Homo sapiens: one gene and its partners. The protein of the gene in region 3 purifies or fractionates together with the protein of the main gene of each other region. This does not show direct contact. Each region holds a gene or a part of one and is shown on either strand. Other genes may lie near its edges.

The links.
Region 1: the proteins of SLC6A1 (region 3) and NPTN purify together in Homo sapiens (affinity purification with mass spectrometry; 2 studies listed by BioGRID and IntAct, with this or other methods). This does not show direct contact.
Region 2: the proteins of SLC6A1 (region 3) and NT5C3A purify together in Homo sapiens (affinity purification with mass spectrometry; 2 studies listed by BioGRID and IntAct, with this or other methods). This does not show direct contact.
Region 4: the proteins of SLC6A1 (region 3) and RABL3 purify together in Homo sapiens (affinity purification with mass spectrometry; 2 studies listed by BioGRID and IntAct, with this or other methods). This does not show direct contact.

The regions. Positions count from the first base shown.
Region 1 is NC_000015.10:73,560,390-73,567,416, forward strand, and holds part of NPTN (neuroplastin isoform b precursor), read right to left. Parts: exon of another isoform or gene 6,549-7,027; intron 3,397-6,548; exon of another isoform or gene 2,990-3,396; intron 2,869-2,989; coding exon 2,847-2,868; intron 1,582-2,846; coding exon 1,521-1,581; 3' UTR 1,507-1,520; intron 660-1,506; 3' UTR 1-659. UniProt on the Homo sapiens protein: Probable homophilic and heterophilic cell adhesion molecule involved in long term potentiation at hippocampal excitatory synapses through activation of p38MAPK. May also regulate neurite outgrowth by activating the FGFR1 signaling pathway.
Region 2 is NC_000007.14:33,059,777-33,067,495, forward strand, and holds the start of NT5C3A (cytosolic 5'-nucleotidase 3A), read right to left. Parts: upstream 3,001-7,719; 5' UTR 2,930-3,000; coding exon 2,792-2,929; intron 1-2,791. UniProt on the Homo sapiens protein: Nucleotidase which shows specific activity towards cytidine monophosphate (CMP) and 7-methylguanosine monophosphate (m(7)GMP). CMP seems to be the preferred substrate.
Region 3 is NC_000003.12:10,995,733-11,002,759, reverse strand, and holds part of SLC6A1 (sodium- and chloride-dependent GABA transporter 1), read right to left. Parts: intron 1-7,027. UniProt on the Homo sapiens protein: Mediates transport of gamma-aminobutyric acid (GABA) together with sodium and chloride and is responsible for the reuptake of GABA from the synapse. The translocation of GABA, however, may also occur in the reverse direction leading to the release of GABA.
Region 4 is NC_000003.12:120,684,424-120,690,529, forward strand, and holds the end of RABL3 (rab-like protein 3), read right to left. Parts: intron 6,065-6,106; coding exon 6,026-6,064; intron 5,681-6,025; coding exon of another isoform or gene 5,639-5,680; intron 5,466-5,638; coding exon 5,400-5,465; 3' UTR 515-5,399; downstream 1-514. UniProt on the Homo sapiens protein: Required for KRAS signaling regulation and modulation of cell proliferation. Regulator of KRAS prenylation, and probably prenylation of other small GTPases. Required for lymphocyte development and function. Not required for myeloid cell development.

The DNA of each region.
Region 1 (7,027 bases), on a different chromosome or scaffold from region 3:
ATCATACGTATATACTGCAATTCATTATACCCATTCAGTGGACTGTTCCAGCTTATTAAAGTCACAGGTTAAGCCCTTAAAATTATAGATTTCAGTTTATATTACTCATCTTTATGTACCAGAACTGCACAATTTCCTCATCTGACAACATACAATAAGGAATGAATATCAGCAGCTTAAAAATGAAACAAGCATTTACTTTATTTTGGATTTCTCCCACCCCCAAAAATATAAATATATATATATATATATTTATATACTGTATATATCTGTAGGTTTTGCTGTACTTTACAAAAGTGTATCACTAGATGGCAGCAGTGCATTTTAGAGCTTTGCCAATTTAACAGCTGCATTAAGTAAAAAATGGCGCATGCATGATCTGATCCTCAGAGGACCTTTTCACTTCTATTTAAATATTTTAACAAAGGAAAAAAAAAAGCAACATTCACAGCACATCAAGCCCAAAATAGTTTACACCTTCTACACTGAAGCATTGTTTAAAATGTACCTGGCTAGATCACCCTTACAGGAGAGGCTAAATAAGGCATGCTTTAGACAGTCATTGTGGTGTTGCTCACTTGAAAGGGGAGAGAACCAAAGAGGTCCAAGCAGAAAATTTTAGCAGGTCATGTTGCCACCAGTTTCAGGAACCTAAAGATCTGTAAAGAAATATGTATTTGGAAATTATAAAGGGATTATGCACTGTCACTCACAACTACACCGTGTGCCACACAAAACTTTGGTTCAAACAGCACGCTCAGGGATGTGGTGTGAAATTCTGATCTCCATATGCCTAACAAGATGACATTCTGGCCCTGCTGCTACCTGGCCATTCTTGTCTTGCCCCCAGACGTGAGGTAAGACTAGTAGGCCTCTGGGAATAAGCCACCTAAGAAGGTGACAATTTTCACCTCTTTGTAAAGATATAATAGTAGTGAAAAGTGTTGATTTTAAAATATGTCTTCTGAAATGGCATTTATATAAACATGTGACACAATGCACCTGATGGCGGGGCACACTGGCTCATGCCTGTAATCCCAGCACTTCTGGGAGGCTGAGGCAGGCGGATCACTTGAGGTCAGGAGTTCAAGACCACCCTGGCCAACATGATGAAACCCCGTCTCTACTAAAAATACAAAATTTAGCTGGGCATGGTGGTGGGCAGCTGTAATCCCAGCTACTTAGGAGGCTGGGGCAGGAGAATTGCTTGAACCCGGGAGGCGGAGGTTGCAGTGAGCCGAGATCACACCACTGCACTCCAGCTTGGGCAATAGAGTGAGACTCCATCTTAAAAAATCCAAACAACAACAAAAAACAACGCAGCTGAAAAATGTTCCTTTCCAGTCCCTAAACTGGGCAGACAGAACTGGCTTCATCAGTATCAGCTGCTCTGAAATGAACTAAAATATCTTATAACACCAATTACTGAAGAATTTGTAACAAGGTCAATAGAGGCACATTCATTTGAATATAATTTTTAAGACTGCTACAGAAGGCCATACTTACATTGTAAGCAGTACTTAATTTGTGTTTCTCTGGCGCAAGTTTTTATCTTTGTGATTGTTGGTAGAGTTGGTTTTCCTTTGGAGGAAAAATTGCATTACATGAGTTAAACTCAGTCAATAACTTTTCAAAGTATAACACATGGAAATACAGGGACTCTTTCACTTACTGCCATCCCTGGTGTAGTGAGAAATTTTGTGGCACAATATGAGTGCATAAAAAAACATTCCTTAAGTAGCTACAGGTTAAGTATCCCTCATCTGAAATGCTTGGGATCAGAAATGTTTCAGATTTTGAATTTTTTTAGATTTTGGAATATCTGCATTATACTTACCAGTTCAGCATCCCTAATCTGAAAATCCAAAATTCAAAATGCTCCAATGAGCATTTCCTTTGAGCCTCATGTGAGCACACAAAAAAAACTTCAGATTTTGGAGCATTTCAGATTATGGATTTTGGTAGTAGGTAGACTCAACCTGTATATACCTCATTTTATCCTCCTTTTGACCCCCAAGGCAGACGAGTACTTTCCCTTCGAATCCGGAACTATAATTACGATACAGGTGAGAATATGTAAAACTTTTCTCCACTGAACACAACACCACTGTCCCTTCTTGATAAAAGGTAATCATAAGCTGGCAGTGCTGGGCCCTCTGGTACTTAACAAATTTGGGTGCTGTTTGTCTGCTTCTCACTCTTTAGTCCAACTCTAGGAGATTCTGCCGATCTTAGATTGATTCCATACCTGCAGTACCCTCTCTCTTGGATACGAGCAATTGTTAATGGGGCTAGACAGTTTATCCAGGCTATAGTTCAGCCTCAAATTGCATTACATGAGTTAAACTCGGTCAGTAACAACTTTTGAAAGTATAACACATGGAAATACAGGGACCCTTTTACTACCATCCCTGGTGTAGTGAGAAATTTTGTGGCACAATATGAGTGCATAAAAAAACATTCCTTAAGTAGCTACAGGTTGAGTATTCCTCATCTGAAATGCTTGGGATCAGAAACGTTTTAACATTGACAAAACCGGGAGCCTCAGATATACTGGCCATTTCCCCCACATTTTAAGTATATCAAATACACAAAATTTGAAAAAAAAAAAAGTTTTTTGCATGGTATTCCACTTTGTATGGCCACTGGAAAACAAGACTGCATAACCTATCCTGAGAATCAAGTGGTTTTTAGTCAGATCTGTGTCAAGCTAAGAAATCTACACTGCAACCTTCATTTCCACTCACTGTCTTCCCCTCCAATCTTAGCTACTCCATTTGATTAAACTGCAAACACAACATCATTCAATCAGATACTGTTGAATCAATGTCCAATAAAGTACTTACATTGGTCCAGCTGGTTCATCATCTACATGGTGTTCAGTTTTTTAAAAATCCATGAGAGATAAGAGAAGAAAGGAGAAAACTGTTAGATTCTGCATAAGGATTAACAGAATAGCAAACTGCAAGTGGCAATCATGGCTACTCACAGCATTTATTAAAGGCCATTCCATCTGGAGGTGCAAAACACTCATGGAGTTATTATTTCTAGATTCAAGTTTAAATGGCAGGTATGTTGTTTCAATGGTTTTAGTTAACACTTTGAATGCTTGTCATGAAAAACTGCAACTGTAGCGGACAGATAGGCTGCAACATTGTTATACTCATCTTGTCCCCAAGTTCCAGTGGTTCACTCTTAAATAGATGAGAAGACAAACCAACATTTCAGTTGTAAAATCCTGCTGTTTGTTTTCTTGTGGTGAATGCATGCAGTTTTGGCTCAATCCTGCAATGTGAATGGATGTGTACCATCTGTACATTTAGCCACACATCCTCACTTCCCCAAAGGGCACTCTGTTTTTCTTGCTGTTTTGTAATCTTTAGAAGAGTCTTTAGTCTGGAGAATGAGATTGAGAAGAGGCAATCACAATAGTTCAACCTAAATTGGGTCAGCCATGCTGGGCTATGCCAGCAACAAGTGTATGTATACCAGAGGATGTTCTGTGACACACCGAGGAAAGCTGAACAGTGGTGACATCCCTCTAGAAAAGACTTCAGAAAGACAGGCTCACTCCTGTGCCCTGGCCAAAACCAGAAGCCAAACCCAGGGGAGCCATGAGATAACTTTTTTAAAATCAAAAAGCTGACATTATATGAGTTTAAGCCTTCTTAAATTGATACTTTATGATTCTGATTTATAAGTCTTTCGTGTTTCAACTAAGTGCAACTTGATCCCCTTTAAGCAGAGATACACATTCACAGAGAGAGAATGTTTTAAAAAGACCCACAAGGGGAAGGGAACAAGTAAGTGCTCTTAGTTTGTTTTTATTATACAAAAGTCAGGTAAACTAAATGATTCAGAACAGTTTGATTTCACTGAAGGCTTCTAGAAAAATTCTCAGCAGGATTCCACAAGGGGGCTTGGTGCACATGAAGCAGTTATGGAGATTACAGTCTCAGTGTAGGCATCTGCAGGAGCACATGTCGGGAGTAATGTCTGTCAGAGGGAGACATTGCTCCACCTGTTCCTTCGAGGCAACGGAGAGGCAAAGCCACCGCCAGCACACACAGTGACTGGAGCAAAAAAGGATTTCAAAAAAAAGAACTAACCACAAACCAATGACTCATCAGCCAAAACAATAGGCTAGCGACACACTAGTGTCCACAGGAGTCCACTACTAACAACAGTATACACTATCAAACGGGTACAGAGAACAAACTAAGACTTAAGGACACCCAAGACATCTGTGTGCTGTGTATGCAGTGGAGAGATACAAAGACATACCAGGTACTAAGACACAAAAGCCCAGCCTAAATTCTCCCCTCACAACATCCTAATGCTCAGCATCCCGGCCAAGCCAGCTCAGCTACATGCTAGGAACTAAGCACTTTGGGGATTTAAATGAAAAGACATAGGAGCAAACTTGGAATACTTTTAGTGCTCTGGCTGTGCACTCGAAAATACAAAATTCTAATGCAAGAGAGCCGAATCAAGAATACACCAATCTACTCCCAAATTTAAAATAAAAAGCAGGGGAGGGAGAATCGCAATAGCCAGGCTAATCTTTTCAAAGCATGACACTGTAGGCACCAACCCAAGCACCTCACACCACGGGCTGTTTTTCCTTTTGGAGTGTGGGTATTCCCTGGTGTCTGATTAGTAATGTCACTTTCCAGCCCAACAAGCTGGTAACATGCAAAGGGTTGCATGGAGGTGTTTTAGCGACAGTGCCTCCGGCATAGCTGCCATGCCTGCAAGTGGGAGCAGTTGAGATTCACAAGGGGGCAAAATCCCAGGAGCCCTCTTCATCTGTCTCCCCAAATCCACTTTCACACTGACAAACAAAAGAGCCTCATGTCTCCCCACTCTCCTGGACTGAATCACTATCTGCAGCACCACTCTCCCCTACAGGTCAGACAAAAAAACGACTTGACCCCTAACAGGGAAGTCAGGGGAGAGGGAAAGAACAGAATTACAGAAAAAAGATACAGAAACCAAAGTAAATGAGGATTAAACAGCAAACTGAAATCCAAATTAGTTGTGAAAGTGAATGAAGTAAACTTGAAGAAAAGTGTTAACATTATGAACTGTGCATCGTATAGACTGAAGCGGAGATTAAACAAACTCCAAAAGCATGCATATCGCTCACTTACCACCATGTTTTAAGGGTTTGATGCAATTGAGGGGGGAAAAAAAAGAAGTCATAGTAACCGACAAATATCAACATACCCCAAACCCTCAGGCCAAAAGATAGCCAGCTTAAACAATGACTGTTCTCTCCACCTCAGTATTACAGCCACTGGCTAGATGAGAGGAAGAGGACTGGGGGGATAATGGAAACAAGATGCTTCTGGAATCCACCTTATGAGAGTGAAGTTACCGGTGGAACTGTAGCACACACTGATTTATCTGCGTGTTCCATCTTCCCAACCGAATGGACCACAGCCCTCACTCCCCCTATATCCGCCTCATCATCTAGAAGGGGTGCTCTGCAATGTCTAGTAAATAACGGATTGCCTAATACAATATCACCTCCAAAAAGATGGCTTTAAAGTCCGAATAATGAAGAGTTGACTCTCTGGTCAAAGGTCCTTTGTCACTGCATTCATCTCACTAGAAGGTTTTATGGTTTCTAAATCCACTTAAATTTTGCCTGACCTTAGCAGGTTAGCATTAAACCCAAGAGAGACTGAGTTACTTCCTATTTCCTTCCTTGTTTGGTCCTATTGCATTTTCTCCATGAGGTAACTTGTTATTGACCCAGATGGCCCCTAGTTAACAGACCAGACACCGAATGCATGTTTTAGGTGTCATTTTAAAAGTCACATTTCTTTTCCAATATCCCTAGTCTGTATAAAGCTTCATATGCTACCAAATGTTTTGACCAACGAATAGATTTTGGAACATTAGAACAGCTCTTCATTCTAAAGTGTCTAAAAGAGCTTGGATATATCAGAGCCACTAAAAATGGCCCCCCAAAAAACCTCAAATATCTTCTCCATCAGTAACTTAAAGAGAGTCCCTTTGACTTGCTTATAAAAAATTATCCCAAGGTAAAAACAGAAAGTTCTTTTTTGGTACCAGCACTTCTTTTCTTAAATCAGCTCCTGTTTTAATTTGCTGTCTGTGAGGTCACTAAAATATCCAGAAGAACTGCAGGCCTCAGCAACTAAGTGGGTTCACTCCCCATTCCTCCAGGGCCTGGGGAGGGGAGACTCAGGAGCACAGGCTGACTGCTCCTGGAGTGCAGTCCGCAGGACACCAACACAGAAGGTGCACCCAAGCAGGTGCCCAGCTGTGACATGGATGGAAGCCTAGAGGCTGCTAGCTTGACCTGGTCTTTTTAGAGAACTATCATTTAACATTTTCAGGGAATACAGTCAAGTGGTGAGTCAAGTGAACAAAACAAAGCTCTTATTTGACTCCATGATTCACTTGTTCCTGAAAATACTGAAGGTAAAGGTGATCTGTAGATTAGTCCACCTACAAGACAACCTAGTGGGCACTGATCCTCAAAGAGACCATACAGGGGACTAAAGGAATGCAGGTGGGTGTTTTCATGTAGGAAATGGTCTGAGAATACTCCAGTAGGTAAAGAAAAAAGACATGGGGCTTTTTTTTTTTTTTTTTTTTTAAAGGAAGCAGCTAAACCTCAATCCTAAGCATTTTCAATGTGAGAAATCTAAATATTTGATTTTCTAGTGAAACATACTTAAACTAAACTATGTAAGTTCAAATTTGTGCTTTTATACTTTTGTATTGTTCACTTAGTGCTTTTGTAGTAAGGGGATGAGTTACCAAGAACTCACAGACTGCCCAAAATATGACGACTGTGCATTCATATAAAAAAAGTTCAGTGAGTCTGAAATGAGCCATGGGTGTATCTTGATAATAAAGTGCTATTTGGCAAAGTAGAAGTATGGCAGGCCTATAAAAAAATTCCCATTTTCCTAATGGTATAAAAAAAATCCAACACAGAGCCACAGATGGTTATCTGATAGGTAAACACTTATGACCTCTTAACACT
Region 2 (7,719 bases), on a different chromosome or scaffold from region 3:
ATCTCGGAAATGTTTGTCTCCTGATCCCTTATTTCCATACCTGTTGCTAGTGCCATAGTTTAAGATCTCTAATCATCTTTCGCAAGCAATACTACCAACCTCCTAAATTTATTTCTTTCCAGGATCTTCCCTTCCAGTCCACCTTATCTCATCTTCATAAAACATACTGTTGGGTTTTTTGTTTCTCTGTTTTGAGACTCTGGGTGACTCTGTCACCCAAGCTTGAGTGCAATGGTGTGATCACGACTCACTGCAGCCTCGACCACCTTGACTGAAGAGATTTCACCTTCGGCCCCTAAGTAGGTGGGACTACACTACAAGTGTGTGCCACTGCACTGGCTAAAATCTTTATTTTCTGTAGAGAAAGGGTCTCCCTATGCCGCCCAGGCTGGTCTCGAACTCCTGGGCTCAAGGGATCCTCCCGCCTCAGCCTCCAAAAGTGCTGGGATTGCAGGCGTGAGCCACTGTACCCTGCCAAAGCAAACCTTTGATGATCCTTTGTTGCAAAATAAAGAGCAAACTCTTTATAATGGCTTTACAAAATTCCTTTACAATTCAGTTTCTTGATCCCATTCCGTATCTTGCTTTCCTTCTTTTTTTTTTTTTTTTTTTTTTTTTTGAGACAGGGTTCTCCCACCTCACCCTCCCAAAGTGCTGGGATTACAGGTGTGAGCCACCATGCCTAGCCATGACTGGCTTCTTCTGTACATTAATCTTGCTGCCCTATGGGATATTTCAGCTGTAGCATACACAACCCACTAGCAACTTCCTCATGTCTCTCAATTAAAAACTCTTGCAAGACAATGCATCATTTTGACCAAGTCCCAGAAGTTATTGGTTTTCTTAGCCAGTTAGATAGGCCCAACTTGGTTAGGTAGTTAACTCCGTTAGCTGTGACCAATATGAGCTATGTCTGTTGGACATCATGGGTTTGCAGAGATTTTTCTGAGGGAGGAGGGCAGAGGATGGGCAGAGCAGACCTACATTATTACAGAAAGATGGAACTAGGATTCCAACCCAGGTCTTCTGACCCCCAGTCAAATACTTCTTCCACTTGAAGAAGCAACCTATTAAAATTAAAAAAGTTAACATGAAGCTCTTTTCACTTTTTCCATTGAAAAGCTACTAGCAGGCTACACATATATTACAATCTGAATTAATATACTATGCATACATGTAAATATTGACTGATTTCTTTAGTACCAATAAGTTGGTATTCTAGATAGGTCTTCATTATTTGTCACAAAGATAGCAAACTGTTCCTATGATGGTATCATTGAAGGATTTTGTGAACACACTGATTTTTAACCTTACTTGGCTTAGATAAGTGGTATACAGACCAATCCATAGTTTAAGCACAGGCAGGGAGATATGGCAACTCGGTTTTTTCCCCTACATAGGCATTATTAACCTTGGGCAAAAGAAAGCCAAGTTTTCTAAGCAGGAAAGCAACAAAAGCAAAATGAAACTTCTGAGTTAAAACCATTTGCTGCTGTGGGCATACAGATGTGGGACAAATGAATTTTAATAAGCCTTTAGAATTATTAAGACCCTTTAAGAATAAATTAATTCAAAATTAGGGAATATTATTGGAATATGAGACAAGTGGGAATTAACTTTTTTTTTTAAGAGACAGGGTCTCGCTATGTTTCCCAGGCTGGAGTGCAGTAGCTATCCACAGGTGTGATTATAACCTTGAACTCCCAGACTCCAGTGATCTTCCTCTCAGCCTCCCAAATAGCTGGGACACTGGCTAATTTTAATTATGCAAATACATCTGTATTCAACCTGGGGTCAGTACAACCAATAGGACAAATCGTGTCTTTCGTCAGTTGGAACATATTGCAGGTGCTCAGAAATTCCAAGTATTACACCCTAAAATGATATTATTTAGTGTAGATTTTAAATTTTTTTCTATCATAAATCATCTGACCCTAGATGTTCACATGTATAGCACACGGTCAGGCGTATACCCAGGATTATGCATTTCAGGAAATACATAAGCGTGCAAGTTTGTGCAAGAATTGTCTTCCTGAGTGGGTTCTAATTAAAATACAAAACGAAACTAAATATCCTCATTTTTGAAACAATTACTTATAATGTATCTCAAAGGGAATTCTTGAGACACCCTCTTCAATAAAAAATTAAATTCGAAAATGTATACAAGAGCTTTGGGAGTTAAGATGAAAACAAAGATATTTCGTGGGAGTTTTGAGACAAGAAGGAATACATTCAAATACAAAATAAACTATCCTGAATTTCTCCTGGATTGCCATTCTTGTAAAATTTTAGATATTGCACATTTTCATAATCTAACTCACGGCAGCCCCAACATAAAACTAGTCCTCTGCGGGAATTGCAACTAGATTAGCGGCAACGGTTTGACGCGGATCCGGGGGGAGGGCGGGAGCAAGGCAGGGAGAGAAGGAGCCACCTGCCCAGGACATGCAGCTTATCTCTAGAGAAACGGGTTTTGCAGCACAAAGTAGCCTGTGTCCGATTCATCTATTTTCTGCCTTGTTCCTTCAAACGGAAACCTAACAAAGACCACGGGCAGCCAAGGGCCGCAGCCGGGGACCCAACCCTGGTCACCAAGCCCGCGGAGTGGCCGCACGCGGGGCGGCCGGGTCCCCCAAGCTGCGCGTCCCGAGCTAGCGAGATCCCAGCCTGACAGGCGACGCCGGCAGCTCCCCGTCGCGACCGAACAGCGGCCCAGCACAGGCTGCCGAGGCCAGCGGACGGCCCAGCCGGCCCCTCGCGTGCTCTGGGCGCGCCGAGCCTCCACACTCACCATCTCGATGATCTTGGTCTTCCGCCCCGTCTTCCTCTTCAAGGTGAATATGTACTGAGCCAGCACCACCCCCGCCACCAGGGCGCACACGCTGGCGCTCGCTACCGCGCCCACCCTCGCCACGGCCGCGCGGTCCATGGACGGGGCCCTCATGCGCGTCCAAGCAGGAAAAAAACAGGCAGCTCGCGTAGACTGCGAGTCTCGGAAGCGCGGGATCCCAGAGCATCACGGACGAGCCCGCGACGCCCCGCCCCGCGCAGCGACGCCCCGCCCCGCGCAGCTCCGCCCCCACGAAGCCCCACCCACACGCCATCGATGGGAGAGGCCAGGACGCGGCGGGAGGGGTGTGGCCTGTGCCCGGAGCCCAGGCTGGAGGCGGCCTTCAGCAGACTCAGGGTCTCACGAGCTGCTGTCAGGGCAGGGCAGAGTATTGCGGTAATTATCCTTCTCTGCTAATGAGGATTAGGCCGTGGTTCGCTCGAGCCCCGCCCCAGTAGAAATCTAATTCCAACTGCGGCCCGCTAAGAAGTCGGTCTCCGCCTTCGCGCCTCAGCCCCTCTGGACTCCGACCCCCAGAAGGCTGCGCGGCACGGTGTGACCTGCGCAGTGGCGTCCGTTCTAAGTGCTATAACAACAGGGGGAAGATGGCTCAGAGTTAGGCTGGAGAGGGGCGGTGTCCCTTCCGCCGCAGCCGCGGGGTTTCTGCTACATCCCATTCGCCACCTCCGCCATCCTTTTTTCTGTGTGAGCAGAAGGGCTTGCAGTTGTTCTCTCCTGCCTAGTGTCTTCCAAGGGATAGATGCCATTTCTTCTGCTGGTCTCTGGGGGTGAGGAGGGGCGCAGGGGAGCTTCTTGGGGGAATCGCTCCAACTCTGTGGAGCTGGTGGTGCTGCCTGGTGGGGCTCTCTCTGCCCAGGACGTGGAACAACTTTCAGCCGGAGGACTAGAGGAAATAGTTGTAGGGGAGGAAAAATTGTTTCCTTCTAGCCTTTTAGGTCATTTGGCTGGTCTACAAATTAAATTGATGTAAGACAGAGGAACATGAGAAAAACGATTTGTCGACCGAAAGGTGAAATAACAGGTACTAAAACTTAAAGAAATCATGGTTAGTTTTATTACTCGGCCAAGTTTGAGGACTTAAGCCTGGGAACACAGACTCAGTATAGACCGAGAACGTGTCCCAAAGTAAGTTAGCTGGGAGTATAACCTGAAGAAGACTGAGTTTTAATACCCAGAATATTTGAGTATCAATATCTAGACTACTGTGTCATTTTGTCGCCAAAGTAATTTTTTATGAATCCAGTTTTGCACCAAATACCAATATGACTTAAATGTTGTCTGATTGTGAGGCCTAAGATGGTCACAGTCTCATTTATCTTTCTTCCTCAACAAAAACATTTTCCATATATTACATATTATTTTGAATGGGTAGAGACTAAAGCCACGTTTCTATAATTTCAGGATTTTAAACATTTTGTAGACGATAACATTCGTCTTGAAGCTGTGGACAATCTAAAACAGAAATGGAGTTCCAAATTTTGTTTTTGTAATATGGCCCGTCAACTGCACATGGGAAGAATGTGGGTACTCTGAAATATGATTTCTATTTTAACTAGTTATACTATATCATAGGTCTGATTATCATCTATATGAGATGTTAAAGCTGTAGGAGTATAGTCAATTAGACTACAAACCCTGGTAGTAAATTTCCAGGAGGAAAGGGGTCCATATGTTTTTTATAAGTGTAAACCTTGTGTTTCTGAATCTAAGAGGGTTGGCCATGTTTGGAGACTATTTCAGCTTCTATGTGAATTAACATATTAATTATTCTTGTTGAAAGACATGGAAGATCTTGATATGGTTTGACCCTGTATCCTCACCCACATCTTATTTTGAATTATACTCCCATAATTCCCATGTGTTGTGGGAGGGACCTGGTGGGAGATAATTGAATCATTGGGGTGTTTTCTTCCATACTGTTTTCGTGGTAGTGACTTAAGTATCAGGAGATCTGATGGTTTTATCAGGGTTTTCGCTTTTGCGTCTTCCTCATTCTCTCTTTGTCTGCTCCCATCCATGTAAGATGGGACTTGCTCCCTGCCTTCCACTATGATTGTGAGGCTTCCCCAGCCACGTGGAACTGGAAGTCCAATTAAACCTCTTTCTTTTGTAAATTGCGCAGTCTGGGGTATGTCTTTATCAGCAGCCTGAAAACAGACTAGTACAGATCTCTACACGGAGAACTACAAAATACTGATGAAAGAAATCAGGCCAGGTGAGGTGGCTGGTGCCTGTAATCTCAGCACTTTGGAAGCCCAAGGTTGGGGGATTGCTTGAGGCCACAAGTTTGAGACCAGTCTCGGCAACATAGCGAGACCCTGTCTCTACAATCCCTGAAAAACCAAAGAAATTAGCTGGGCATGGTGCTGCGTTTCACTCTCGTCCGTGTGAAGAGACCACCAAACAGGCTTTGTGTGAGCAACAAGGCTGTTTATTTCACCTGGGTGCAGGCGGGATGAGTCCAAAAGAGAGTCAGTGAAGGGAGATAGGGGTGGGGCCGTTTTGTAATATTTGGGTAGGTAAAGGAAAATGTGTTAACAGTCAAAGGGGGGTTGTTCTCTGGCAGGCAGGGGTGGGGGTCGCAAGGTGCTCACTGGGGGAGCTTTTGAGCCAGGATGAGCCAGGAGAAGGAATTTCACAAGGTAATGTCATCAGTTAAGGCAGGGACCCACCATTTTTCACTTCTTTTGTGGTGGAATGTCATCAGTTAAGGCAGGAACAGGCCATTTTCACTTCTTTTGTGATTCTTCACTTGTTTCAGGCCATCTGGGCATATAACTTGCAGGTCACAGGGTATATGATGGCTTAGCTTGGGCTCAGAGGCCTGACACTGCATGCCTGTAGTCCCAACTACTCAGGAGGCTGAGGTGGGAGGATTGCTGGAGCCTAGCAGTTGGAGGCTGCAGTGAGCTATGATTATGGACTCCAGCCTTGGTGAAAAGGTCAGGAGATCGAGAACATCCTGGCTAACACGATGAAACCCCGTCACTACTAAAAATACAAAAAATTAGCTGGGCGTGGTGGCGGGCGCCTGTAGTCCCAGTTACTCGGGAGGCTGAGGCAGGAGAATGGCATGAACCCAGGAGGTGGAGCTTTCAGTGAGCCGAGATCATGCCACTGCACTCCAGCCTGGGCAACAGAGCAAGACTGTGTCTCAAAAAAAAAAAAAAAAAAAAAAAAAAAGTGAGACCCTGTCTCAAGAAAAAGGAAAAGAATGGAAGAAAGGGAAGGAAAGAAGGAAAGAAAAAAAGAAAGAAAGAATAGATGACACAAACAAATGGAAAAAACGCCTCATGCTCCAGGATTAGAAGAATTAATGTCATCAAAATGACCATACTGCCCAAAGCAATTCAAATTCAACAATACAGATTCAGCAAATACAGATTCAGGAATACATATTCAGCAAATACAGATTCAACACAATACCTGGCAAACTACCAATGTCATTCTTCATGGAATTAGAAAAAACAATCCTAAAATTCATGTGGAACCATAAAAGGGCCCAAATAGACAAAGCAATCCTAAACAAAAGGAGTAAAGCTGGAGGTATCACATTTTGACTTAAAATTATACTACAAAGCCATAGTAAACAAAACAGCATGGTACTGGTATAAAAATAGACATGACACATAGATCAATGGAACAAAATAGAGAAACTAGAAATAAATGCCCCATATTTGCAGCAAACTGATATTTGACAAAATATACACTGGCAAAAGGACACCCTATTCAATAAATTGTGCCGGGATAATTTTAGAGCCATATGCAGAAGAATGAACCTGGACCCCCGTCTCTCACCGTATACAAAAATTAACCAAGATGGATTTAAGACTTAAATGTAAGACCTGAAACTATAAAAATCCTAGAAGAAACCCTGGGAAAAACTCTTCCGGACATTGGCCTAGGCGAAGAACTTATGACTAAGTCCTCAAAAGGAAACAACAAAAATGAAAAACAAAAGTTGACAAATGGGACTTCATTAAGCTAAAAAGCTTCTGCAATGCAAAACAAATAATCAACAGACTAAACATACAGCCTATAGAATGGGAGAAAATATTTGCAAAGAATGCATGTGACAAAGGGTGACTATTCAAAATCTATAAGAAACTCAAACTACTCAACAAGAAAAACCATTAAAAAGTGACCATACTGCCCTTGACATGAAGGACAACATTTTTCAAAAGAAGACATACAAATGGCCCACAAGCATATGAAAAAATGCTCTACAACACTGGTCATCAGAGAAATGCAAATCAAAACCACAATATGATATCGTTTCACACCAGTCAGAATGGCTTTTAAAGTCAAAACACAACAGATGCTGGTGAGGCCATGGGGAAAGGAGAATGCTTAAACACTATTGGTGGGAATGTAAATTAATTCAGCCACTGTGGAAAGCAGTTTGGACATGTCTCAAATAACATAAAACAGAACTACAAGTCAACCCAGCAATCTAATTACTGGGTATATATTCAAAAGAAAAGAAATTATTCTGCCAAAAAGACACATGCATCACAGCACTATTCACAAGAGCAAAGACATCGAATCAACCTACGTGTCCATCAACAATGGATTGGATAAGGAAAATGTGGTACATGGACATGAGTCAATACTACACAGCCATAAAAAGAACAAAATCATGTCATATGCAGCAACATTAATGCAGCTGGAGGCCATTATCCTAAGCAAATTAATGCAGGAACAGGAAACCAAGTGCTGCATGTTCTCACTTATAAATGGGAGCTAAACATTGAGTACTCATGGACATAAAGATATATATATTATATATATTTTATATAATATAAATTATATAAAATATATAATTTATATATTATATAAGTATATATAAAATATATATTTTATATATA
Region 3 (7,027 bases):
CCGTCTTTATTTGTTCACTGAATCAGTCTCCCTGACCCTTCTCCTGCCTGCATAGAATAGGGGTGTCAGGATCCAAGGTCGTCAGCTCATTGCCTCATAGCTTGGCATCCAGCCCCAGAAACAGCAGCAAACAAATGACCCTCTCTCTCAGGGGACCCAGAAACAGGTTGCTATCTCTGGGGGTGGATTTGCTCAAACAGGTTTGCGGAAACAAACAAAATGGTTGCTTGCATCTCAATCATCAGGATCCCAGCTCTTACCAGCGCTTTTCAAACAGCCAAATGCCTGAGTCCAGCACCCTCTTTCCGCTTCCAAAATGGAATGGGGTTGTCTGCCAGCCTGCATCTTTGCCAGCATGCAAATGATGCACTTTGGGGTTTCACAGGGTATTAACCCCATGTTCTCCAATCCCTGATTAGGGAGGTAAGTACACTGAACCAGCTGTGCTTCTAGAAGAGAAACTAGGTGGGTGGGTGAGAGTGTTTATTTTCCAAAAGCGTTTGCAGCATGGGGTCATTTAGATAGCTGGCACAGAGAAAACACACATTCCCTCAGTGAGGTGTGCATGGAGGTTTTTAAGGACAGTACATTTGCAGTGAGGTACAACATTCACACTCTTCAAATGCAAAATATTTATGTATATTTTTGGTGATGGAGCTGTTCATTTGTTCTAGTGATATTTACTAGCCTGGAATGAAGAGCCCTGTTATGTATCATGCTTGTACTGTGTTAGCCAGTTTCGCTCTTCCAACACCACAAATTACAAGCTGATACATGGTTGGGAGTGGATCCTTTTCCCAGCCTCTCCCCTTTGGTTCATAACAACAGCTGCTGGTGATTGAGCTATGGCCAGGATTGGGGCTCGATGCTTTATCTTCCTCATGATATGCAGTCTCACCACAATCCTATGAGGTAGGTGCCGGCATTATCCCCATTTTGCAGATGAGGACACTGAGGCTCAGAGAGAAAGTGACTCATCCAGGATTACACAGTTTAGTAAGTGGCAGGGAGAGATGTGACTTTGGCTCCAAAGCTGATGCTTTTAGCTATGCTGACATTCTGTTTTCTCTTCCTCTTGGGCTGGAATTGTCATTCCTGGACCATCAGGACCTCCACAAGCACTTAAGACTTTAGAGAGGTCTCCATCAACCATCCCCTGCCCCTGCAGGTGAGCCTCCTTCCAGGCCCTCCCTATAGCCTAGGCCCCCGTGTTGGTTGGAGGTATAATCCCAGCTCTGGCTCTTTCCTGGTTGTGTGACCTGGGATGAGTCACTTCACCTCTCCTCACCTGACTCTGCACCTCCACGAAGTGCAGGGAAGTATCCCATTCTGACAAGGCTGTAGGAAGGATGGAAGTAGAGAAGGCAATTTGCCCCACCCCTACCAGTCCCGCACCTCCTTCTTGGGGAAGCTCGAGTTCTAGACACGGTCCCCTCCACTCTCCTCTTGTACTCACTCTCACTCTAGCAGGTCCTGAATCAGCATTCAACACACATCGCTCTGCCTTGTGCAACGCCATTATCTCCCGAGGACACAGGCTCCGTTGTCACGGCAACCAGAGTCCTTCCACCAACTCTATTTAATAATTTCTTAACGGAGGAGCTGGGCTGGCTTGGTGGAAGGGAAAGAGCACTGGGTTAGGGGTTAGAAGCTCTGGGTCCTAGCCTCTGCAAGACCTAGGACTCTTCCTCTCTAGGCCTCAGTTTACCCATCTATAACACAGGTGTGTCTGAAATGGGTGGGTTTTGTGATGTTCTCTAGCCTACAAAGACCTGAGAAACAGCTTTCCAGGTCCAGGAAGCTGGGAACAAGTGACCTGAGCTGCTGGAGATGAATTGGGGGTTGGAGTGAGATTTGAGTGAGACCCACAGGAAGAACCAGATGCTGCCTTTGGTGACTACACTCTCTCTCTCTGCTGAATTTCCTCCAGAATGTCACTCTTCAAACATTCATGAGGTCTCTGTGATCCTCCAGATTCAGGGCCAGGATTGGTTAGGAGACAGTTGTTTTGCCTGCAGCCATCATGGCCCTTATCCTCCCCATTTTGCAGATGTGCAAACTGAGGCTCAGAGAGGGCAAAGGAGTCGCCTGTGGTGCCTCAGCAAGTGGAAAACCCGGCTCTTCATCCAGGTCATGGCTTGTTTCAGAACCTGGGGCTAAGCTGTCCAGGAAGGTCATGTTGCTTGTACCTGAAGAAGACAGCCTGACCCTGGCCCAGTCCCTCTGCCCACCGATCTCACTCTGGCCACAATCTGTGTGGCCTCTGGCTCTCATTCAAGGAACCAGCAGATAATCAAAGTAATACAGAGGTACCCACTCTGTGTTCTTGACTATGGGACCAGAGACTCCAAACAACACAGCATTCCTGCTCTTAAGGAATCTACGGTTTTCAATGCAAGTGGATCTTCAAAGGGCAGGAACAGCATCCAGTTTCTTTCTACAATCCAAAATAGGACCTGGCACACAGTAGGTGCTCAGAGTTTTATTCGGTCCAATTGTTTGTCCACATCTGCCCCTAAGGATAACTAGTCTAGGCCCCCCAGGGGCCTTTAAGAAAATCTCCCAAAGCAGCCACCGATCCATGTCTCCAAGGAGCTGCTTCGGACCCTGAGCTGAAGAGGGGTCTGTGACCAATGAGGGGACCCTTACTTTGTGACTCCTGTCTAGCTCCAAGTTTGGGGAGGGGGCTGCTCTGCCCCGGCCCGGTTTGATGGCATCACTTTTAAGCACAGACGTTGCCAGATCAGTGGTGCTATTTAACTCCTCCAGGGCTGGCGTTTTCATTTAATACCCGTGGAATAATTAACAGTGCTGCATCTGCTCTGTCATTAGTGGCATTCACTGCCATTTGGAGAAAGGGCTCTTATCTTCCTCAGTCATTAGTCTCGGGGAGGCTATTATGGGGGAAATGGAGGAGGAGAGGAGGAAGTGGGGCGTGCAACTTCCCTCCCCTTGCCTGGAGAACTGGCGCCTGGTGCGGGGAGCAGCCGATCATCCTATCCAATGGTCCAAACCTCTTGGCTGTATGAACTGAGCATGCAAAGCCAAGAGGGGAAAGAACCTGCCCACGGTCCCCCACAGGCTTGAGGCCCAGCAGAAGGCGGCTCTCCCACTTCTTTCTCAGGTCTGCAAGCCCAAGCCTCGGAGCCCTGCAGCTTTGGATCTGATTCCCAGCTCTGCCCTGTGTCAGTGGTATGACCTTGGGCAACTTCTTGAGCTCCCTGAGCCTCAGTTTCCTTATTGAGGATCCTGGGACAATGCTTGTGAAGTACTGGCTCAGTGCCTAGGTCACAGGCAGAGCCCAAGACTGAGAGATGTACATATCAGATCATTCTGTGTCATTATGCTGAACCAACCTGCTAAAAATGCATATGTAATACATGCGTGCATTTAAATTCCATCTTTCAAAAATACTCTTCAGTAAGATGACTTCTTCTCTCTCCCCAGGCCTACTTTTTATTATTATTTTTTTAATCATAGGTGGGTCCTGGATCTTAAGCTCTGGAAACATCTGACTTGGGCGGAAAGGGGCTTGGTCAGCTCAGGCGGCAGTGAAGCCTGGATTGCAGGCTGGCAGCTCAGACGGTGCCCAGGAAGCTGGTAGCTTTTGCTTTTGGCCACTTTTATTTTGTATTGCTTTCACTTTTTCTCAGCCCTTGCATGGCACAGCCAGAAATGGCGAATACAGAGAAAAAGCCCCTGGCTCCCCAACAGTTATCTTGTCTCAGGTGCTTTTCAGAAGCAGCATGAGGTTGGCATCACCAAGACCTGGGACCAAACTTGGTCTGTGCACCCTGTGGCAAGTGACTCCACCACCCTTGGGCTCAGGGTCCTCTCTGGCAGAAGGAGAGAGTAGCACCTATCATCCAGTATCAGCCTTGGCTCAGGGACCAGTGCCCAGCAGGCCCTCTGAACTCACTGTCAGGGCCCAGCTGGACAAGTTCTCTCCCCACCATCCAGCCAGGGAACTGTCAAACCCTCAGGTCTCTTGCCTCCCCCTGCACCCCAGAGGGAAGCTCCTAGAACTCATGATATTTCACAATCTCCAGCATGGCAACAGTCCAAAGGCAGAGGTGAGTGATCCCTGCCCTCTTGCCTGGGCATGGCTCAGAAGCACACAGCCTGCTCCTCCAGTGGGTCTGAGCTGAGGCTCACATACAAACACTCCCCACAACCTTCCTGGCTACCAAGACCTTTAGATCCTTCTATGAAATCTCATGGGGTCCCTGGTGTTCATTTCTCCCCCAATTCACCGAGAAAAGCATTCTTGTGTGCACATAGGTGTGTGAGAGCAACCATCCCTTCCTCTCCCTCCAGGCCTGGTTACTGCTGGGACCCCCCGGCCAAATGATCACACTTTGGACCCCAAACTCTGCGCATAACCAAGGAGATGTTAATCTCTGGCCAGAGCTCAGGTAAGGTTACAAGATGCTACGGCCCTTTTCTCCCCAGCCTCACAGCCGTGCCTTCCCACGCTCTCTTGTAAGTCTCGATCTTTGAGTGCTCTGTGCTCTGCCTCCTACCAGATCTGGCCTCATCTGGGCTCCTTCTCAAGGGGCTACCTGGTGAACTTGGATTTCAGCCTAGCAAAGGTGATTTTCATCAGCTGGGAAACTAGGGGACAGAGATGAGGAGTCAGGGCTCACTGAGCCTCAGGTTCATCTTTTGGATGGGGATAATAATGGTACCAATAATAACAATAAAATTACCTTCACTTGAAGTTCCCAGGGCTGTCACAAGCTTCGACTGAGAAAACACTTTGAAAACTGAAATTCTACATAAGTGTTAACGTGTGCATGTACGCACATGTGTGCAAAGGAGCCTCATTTGGGTCAAGGTCATTCTGATTTGGGCTTTATAAGAAAACTAGCTTTAAAAAAATCACTCTTTATTGGAGAGAGGATTCTTCTCCAGGATCTCAAGGACCATATTTTCTTCCCCTGGAATACTTCATACATGATCAAAAGAAAAAGCAGCTGCAAGAGCATTTTTAGCAAAGTATAAAGTGCGGTTCTGATGACCGGGAGTATCGTGATCAGCGCTAAGTTGCAGCAAACCGCAACACTGATACCAAATGTCTTTGCTCACCTCCCTGTGGCTGCTGCCCTCTCCCTGCACAGAATCTCCTTATCAAACTACACAGCCATGAAAGCAACCTGCTGTCGATGTTTCAGGGCATCTTTGACCTTGAATGTCCCTCTGGCCAGGGCTCAGTTATCTCAGGAGCTGGCGTGAGACACAGAACTTGCAGACACCAGGCAGCTGACAGGTGGGCAGAGCTGCAGGTCACCGTCCAAGGCAGTCACTAACTCCTGCATCCCCAAGCCTGGCCTGTGTGCCAGGATCCCATCCAGCCCCAGCAGCCAGGGGGCCCCTTTCACAGCCAACAGTGCCCCTGGCATCCTAAAGTGGCCTGTTCCACCTAGTTGTACATCCCCTGCTTTCAGAGCACCACAGCCAATCTCGCTGCAAGACCTGGCCTCCTTGTAATTTCCAATTTGTGAGAAATGTAAAAATAGAAGACCATTCGCTGCAGGCAGCTTGCATAGAATCGGATGCCACTTCTGTGTCATGTCAGATCACGGTAAATGCAGCTGATGGCTTTGTCAGGGCACTCTCAATAGCTTCCTGAGCAGTAAGATGGTGGGGACAAAATTGGGGGATACCCGAGAGTTAGGGAAAGGTGGCTGAGTGCATGACATCAGCACTAGCTGCAAATGAATTTAAAATCTAGGTCCCAAATATGTTGTAACAGGCTGGACATCTCAATTTGAACCCCAGTTCTGCAACCTAGCAGCTGAGGGACCTTGGGCACAAATTCATCTCTCTGCAAGTCAGCTTCCCCAGTTATCACGCAGAAGCTATCATGCCACCCAGCCTCCCAGAGCTGTGGCAAAGCTCCACAGATGGAATGGATGAAGAAGTGCTTTGTAAACTGTGCAGCTCCTTAACTGGGGTGGAGGCAGCGGGGGGCGCTCATGGTCATTGCCAAGTAAGCAGTGTCAGGGGCTTTTAGTGGCAGAGATTTAAGCATGCTGTGACTGAGTTTGGGCTTTAAGGCTATTTACCAGCCCAGTGATCCTGCAGCAAGTGCTTTAGCCCCTCTCCTCCTCAGTTTCCTCACCCTGACAGGGATCATTATGCTACGTATCTCACAGGGTTTTGTGAAAATTAACTGCAACGATATAAAGCACACAGCACAGTCCCTGGCATATTGCCAACATGCAGTAACTGACAGTTATTACTGTTTTTGATACAATTGCATTGGAACAATATTTAGTGTTTTCTTTCTTTTCTGTTTATGACTGAATTCCAGGTCTCTGCTGAAATATCACAGCTTGCATTCACACCTACTGCCTATGCCAGGCAACTCTCCTGTCTGCTACTGGCCCACTTCCCACTGACTCCATAGCCCCTTCCCCTGACCCCAGAGGTCTTAGGTGAGCATGGAGTAGATGAAGATGCTGGATGTTAATATGCTCACTGAGACCCATTTCCTGGGAAGTCCTATTTTGGGGTGCACATCTGGCCTCCCAATCTTTTCTTTTTCAAGCACCAACCTCTTCCCCTCCATCTCCCAGTGCCCTTCAGAGAATGGGGTAAAGTTGGCAAGAAGAGCCACCCGTGCAGGGCCTGTCTGAGAAGCCAGCATCGAGGCATGCCAAGCCACAGAGCAGTGGACACAGGATGATCTTTTCACCTTGTGGGGGAAGTGCCCAATGCTCTTGGCAACTGAAGTCAATTCGAGGTTGCTGTCATTCAGCGGGGCTATACCCTGCCCACCATTCTCCAGGCACAGAGAAGCTCAGGCGACGTTGCATGGGTGAATTGAAGGGGTAGTCCCGACACAGGCATAGACAGGCCTGCTGACGCTTGCATTTTAGTTTTCATTTGGGCAGAGAGGGGATGAAGTGGCTCTAACTGGGTTTGGCATTGGGGCTGTGGCTGAGGAGAGGGGCTGCTGGGGCGGGGGTGGTAGTCAAGGGGAAGGTGGGCACATTTTGGGCTAGGCAACAGGGATGGGCTT
Region 4 (6,106 bases), about 110 Mb from region 3:
TTAAAATATTATTTTATTATTTAATTTTTTTTTTGAGACAGGTTCTCTGTCATCCAGGCTGGAGTGCAGTGGCACAAAAATGGCTCACTGAAGCCTCAACCTCCTGGGCTAAAGCGATCCTCCCATCTCAGCCTCCTGAGTAGCTGGGACTACAGGCACACACCACCACACCCGGCTACTTTAAAAATTTTTTAGTAGAGATGAGGTCTCGTCATGTTGCCCAGGCTGAACTTGAACTCCTAGGCTCAAGCAATCCTCCCACTTCAGCCTCCCAAAGTGCTGGGATTACAGACGTGAACTCCTGCACCTGACTTAATGTTTTTTTTTAGAGACAGAGTCTTGCTGTGTCATCCAAGCTGGAGTGCAGTGGCATCATCACAGCTCACTGCAGCCTTTAACTCCCAGGCATAAGCCATCCTCTGGCCTCAGCCTCCCAAAGTATTGGAATTACAGGCATAAGCCATCATGTCCTGCTGGGATTGGAGAATAAATAACTTACACAGCTACAGATAAGTTCTGATTCTATGTCTAATGGCTTTCCATTTTAATTAATGTAATTATACATTCATTTATTTAACAATTTTTGAAAACCATCACAACATAGTGTAAGTGCTCTGACAGGAAAGAGCCCAGGGATCTAGGGGAAGCACTAGTGGGCACGTAGCCCAGACGAGCAGAGCCAGGGAGGGCTTCCCAGAGAAGACTATGTCTGAGCCAAGTCCCATAGAGTAAGAGTTGGATAGAAAGTGGAAAACATTACATCCAGGAATTGCTACAAGGTAATGTGAAGCAGGGTGTGACAGGTCTACAGAGTAATCACTCCAAAACGGAGTTAGGCATCAGAGGACTCCAGGACAGATGTCTCCGAGAAAAAGATGGAACGGAGAGATTACCTGATATACTTGATGGTACTGAGCGAGGTTTTACACCTTGGTTGGAGTTTAGGGGTTCCATTCTTTGTCATTAGTTATTGATGACCTCGGTAAAGCTTAGTGATTAGCCAGCTGAGAAAACACAGTACTAGAGAGGGGGCTGTGTGTAAGATGGCAAGGCACTGGTTAGAAATAAATATATTTGGATTAAAAACAGAACCCAGGGGAAAAACAGTGGCAGTAATAAAAATGATAGCAATACATGAAAGACAAATACTTGTTTTGCCAACAGAAGACATGACAATCATCTCATGTTTAATTTGGCATATGTAGCTTTGAGTGGGGAGGAGTGGATCAGTTCATTAAGGTGAGATCAGGTTGAGGCAGTCAAAGATGCGCTTTGATGAATTCTGCTATAATGGCACTCATAAAGTACAGAGTTCACAATCTATATTCCCTACTTTTTGATGAGTTTATTTGTCTTTCTTAAAGGCTAGATCCTGACTTATCTGCATGAGAAAAATCTGGCTTGTCTGTTAAAAATACAAAATCCTGGCCTTATCCTATACATATAGAAAGGGGAGAGTAAGGGAAGAGAGAGGAAATCGTGGAATCTGCATTTTCAGCAAGCACTTCAGGGGATTCTTACACACTTCAGAGTTTGAAAGCCCTCCATGTGAGTCCTTAATGGAGGTGCAGATTAATTGTAACTGGATGTCCAATTCCTTTACTATGCTATGGAGCAGCCCCAGCTGACCCTAACATCAGATATTTTGTGTAGGCAAACATGTTGTGAAATATTTGAGACACAGGGTTAGACTTCCTGCGACCCTTCCTCTCCCACCACAGTGATTTAGCTCAGTCTTGGGACTGCGGAGAAATGAATTTCTAATTTCCTTCTCCTCCTTTCCCCAAAACAGACTCCTCCTTTGAATTTTAACATATATTAAACCAATGCAGACACCCTGTTAGACCTTTAAACTTCTTAAAATATGATGTCACCTGTGCTTTAAAAAATTCAATTAAGCCACCATCTAGTAACCCATACAAGGTCCTACCTATGGTGGGTGCTACTGCAAACTATTGAAATGAGGACTCAGAAACTCTGATTACAAGGAGCAATTAGGAGCTCTTCACCTCAGTCTGATGTCCCTGCACATCATTTCCATGAAGTCCATGTCAGAATGAACAGAAAAACAAGTGTCAGGGCACCTGGATTATATCATGAATGCCTCAAGTTTGAGGAATTCTAAGAACCCGAGCTAAAGCTAATATGGATCAACTCTTTTGGGAATAGCTTTTCTTAGAGCACTGTAGCGGAGAAGAGCTTTCTTTCTTCACCCATCACTAGGTTCACAAATGAGGCACCTATAACGAAAGACAGATTATTGAGAAAAGCACACACATTTATTTACTGTAAGTTTTACATGACAGGAATCTTCAGAAATGAAGACAAAAAAGAAATAGGAAAACTTGTGTATTTTTATGTACAGTCTTATGCAGAAGTATAATCAGAGGACAAAAGGACATAATCTAATGGTAATAAACTGTGGAGAACTTAGCAAGTCCTATTTGTCCAGATTCTTCTTGGTGTCTCTGTATCTGTGAGGATAAAGGGTACCTATGGAATGAAGGTTTTATGATCTACTTCAGGGAACAGTCACTTAGGGTTTATGGCCTGCTTCAGGGGAGAAGGGGTAAGGGGAAGGTATGAGAAACCTTGCTTCTGCAGTTTTCTCAAATAACAGGGTGCAATATTTTGGGGTTATGTGTCCTGAATCCCATCAACGTTAAGATGGAGAGACCAGCCCAAATCTTTAGTTGGATTCCAGCTAAGTCTTATACACCTAAGGGACAGAGGAGTAGTCATATATATGCCTTCATATCTGGTCACCTTCACAATGAGTCAGAAAATTGGTCAGACACCGAAATCACAACAGAAAAAAAAAATCTTTATTTCTACCAACTTGTCCCATCAAGAGAGTAAGATATACATATGTAAAGAGATGGAGTCCCACTCTGTCATCAGGCTGCTGGAAGGCAGTGGTGCAATCATGAATCACTGCAGCCTCAAACTCCCGAGCTCAAGTGATCCTCCTGCCTCAGTCTCCTAGAGTGCTGGGATTATAGGCGTGAGCCAGCACCTGGCCAATTATACTTTTAAAAAAATATTTTGACATTTATACTTGTTTATTATCTAAAAGCATTTTTATGAATAGTTCTCAAGAAGTCCTAGCAAAAATTGTGCTTCATTCTTTTTTGAATAACTCTAGCTAATAACATTCATTTGCGCAAAAAGCCTTATTATGCTGCTGCTAATAATTGCAACAAATTTACCTTAGATTATTAAAAACTATTTTTTCTTAGAAAACTATAATTCAAGGAATCAAGCTTGGCTGCAGAAAGTAATGGAGTTGAGGAATACTGTTAATTTTTCCAGATTGACCCTGGAGTCATCAGCAATAGTTTACTTTTATTATTTATTTATATATTTATATATTTATTTATTTATTTTCTTTTAGTTGGAGTCTCACTCTGTCACCTAGGCTGGAGTGCAGTGACACGATCTTGACTCACTGCAACCTCCACCTCCCAGGTTCAAGTGATTCTCCTGCCTCAGCCTCCCAAGTAGCTGGGATTACAGGCGCGTGCCACCAGGCCTGGCTAATTTTTGTATTTTTAGTAGAGACAGGGTTTCCCTATGTTGGCCAGGCTGGTCTCAAACTCCTGATATCAAGTGATCGACCCGCCTCCCAAAGTGTTGGGATTAAAGGTGTGAGCCACCGCGCCTGGCCTATTTTTATTTTTTAAATAAGATAGAAAATAAAAAAATCAGGATGAATTTTTTTAAAATTAAAAGAAAGAGGAAGAAAGAAGGAAGGAAGATTTATTTCTTGAAGGAGAAATACAAAGAGCTTAATTGGGTTAGGTCTCTGGGTAGCATTTGGTTTCTACTTCCCAACTGTACAGCCTATGCAACAACATACTTGTGACCAATTCTACATACAGATCATGATTTGCATAGCTTTCCTTTGTGTCAAAAAGAAACCAGGGCTATGTCCTTTCAAAGAGGAAGTAAAGAAAGGCTGGAGAACAGTCTAGCTGATGAAAGCTGCTTTAAAAATCCTTTTCCAAATTCCCAAGACTGCCTTTCTAAAAGGACTCTCTAACATTCTTATTTTAATATCCTCTTGCAGCATACCTTGATTTCCAAGATACTTCTGAAACCTAATTAAAATGGAACAGAAAGTGAATTTGGTGTTTTCCACCTATTTTTTAAATGAGAAATGAAAACTGTATATTTATTATTGTTATTTAAAAGTATGGAGCAAAATCAGGAGTGCAGAGACCTGCAGCAGAGCCAGAGAGAGAATACGGGTGATAGAGTGTTGAATAAATTGTTTTTAGAAATCAAATTCATATACTCAGGAAGAACTGGGGCAGAGAAGATTAAGCAAGCAAAAAGATAGGTTAAAAAAAGTAATGATGAACAATTACGGACACACACACACACACACACCATCCCCAAAAAGCTTTGGAGTGATTATGAAATCCAAGAATCCTAGTTCATAATTCATGTAAATGTGTTGCTGTGGAACTTATTTTTACTTCTCTCCATAAATACATTGTTGACACAGAATAATATTCTTAGTTTTCTGATTATAGCTAAGGGACATTTCAGGAGTTGACTTTTCCTTAAAAAAACAAATAGAGAGGAGGCTGTAAATGTCTCTCACTGCCCTTGTGCAGGTCTTAGATTTTACCCTACCTATTTCCAAACAGAAAACCTAGACTGTATATAGCAGCAACCTTAAGAGTGAGGGAGCTGTCAATTTTTCACATCATTTTACCAGAATTCTTTTTTTCTGGTATTGCTGTTCTCTATGTATTATTAATTTGTATTTATATTTAACTCTGGCTATTAGTCCGCCTCTTCCAGTCACTGAGCCATTTGCAAAGGAGAGAAGAGGGAGACAAGGGTTGCTATTATTAGGCATTCCTGTGTGTGACAATGGTGGAGACAATTAAATAACACCATTTTGCATCTTTGAAAATGACAGAGATTGTTTGGGGTAGACAACTCAGGGCTGGTTAACAAGACCGTTCCCCTCAAGAAGGTAAAACAATGGAGATACGTTTTTGAAGTACTTAATTAAGCTTTCAGCAATGAGTGTGGGAAAATTACAGACCCATAAAAACCCTCCAGTTCTAGGCAAGAGTAAATTTTCTCTGCAGTACACTGTCATTGCTCATTTACTGCATCATTTTGACAACATCTCATATTTACACAAGGCTTTTACATAATCTATACACAGGGACAGAAAGGTAAGGAACACAGAGAACAGGGACAAAGTTTGGACCTCCCGTATTGTCACTTCCTTTCATTTTTCCATTAAAGGGTAAGGCTGAAGGGTAGCATTTTAAGATGATTTTGTTAAAAGGCTGTGATGGTAATAATTGAACACAGCAAGATGAGCTGTGAAAAACTGCCACTGCTTGCTCACTCTTCCAAAGGATGAGTGTAATTCAGTCATAATGAAGGCTCTTTAATGTTCCTGCCCCAAATCTTTTCCGATCAGGAAAGCCTGGAATCTGTAGGCAAGAAAGATAATTGCATTAAGTCTCAAGCAATAAAAGTTCAAATACTAATAGTAATTTTTCCCTTCTTTTCCATTTCTGTATGTCAGCCTGCTGTTTCTTAAAAAAACAACTTTCTGAGGTTTTACTCAGAAAACCACAGATTAAATAATAAAAATAAATCTTACCCAAATGGAAAACATTTCCCAACAAATTGGTGATAGTGTCATCTAAATCAGAAAGAATGAAGGTAAATCTCATAATACCTACTAGACTTTTATAGAAATTATTTGTATTGTGACAGACCCTGAACGTATACTCTTGGAGTCCCAAGCAAATTATTTTCTTCTTCTATTTTATAATGTAATCTTATTCCTAGATTATATTTGTTTCCTAGATCCTTATTTTCCCTTTGTTCTGATTTTCTCCTTTTGTATTTAACAGGATAGAAGGAAATCAGTTGCTTGTGCCTATAAAGGGCTTTCCCCAACTTTTTAAAACTACTTCTGAACTTAAATTTGGAAATCACCTATCAAAATTTAAGAATCTATTTTATCAAGAAAAGAGATACCAACCTGATTACCTTCTCTTAAAAAGTATCTCTTCTCTATGACCTGTGAAAAACAAAGATTTTAAAGGCTTAGCACACATACCTG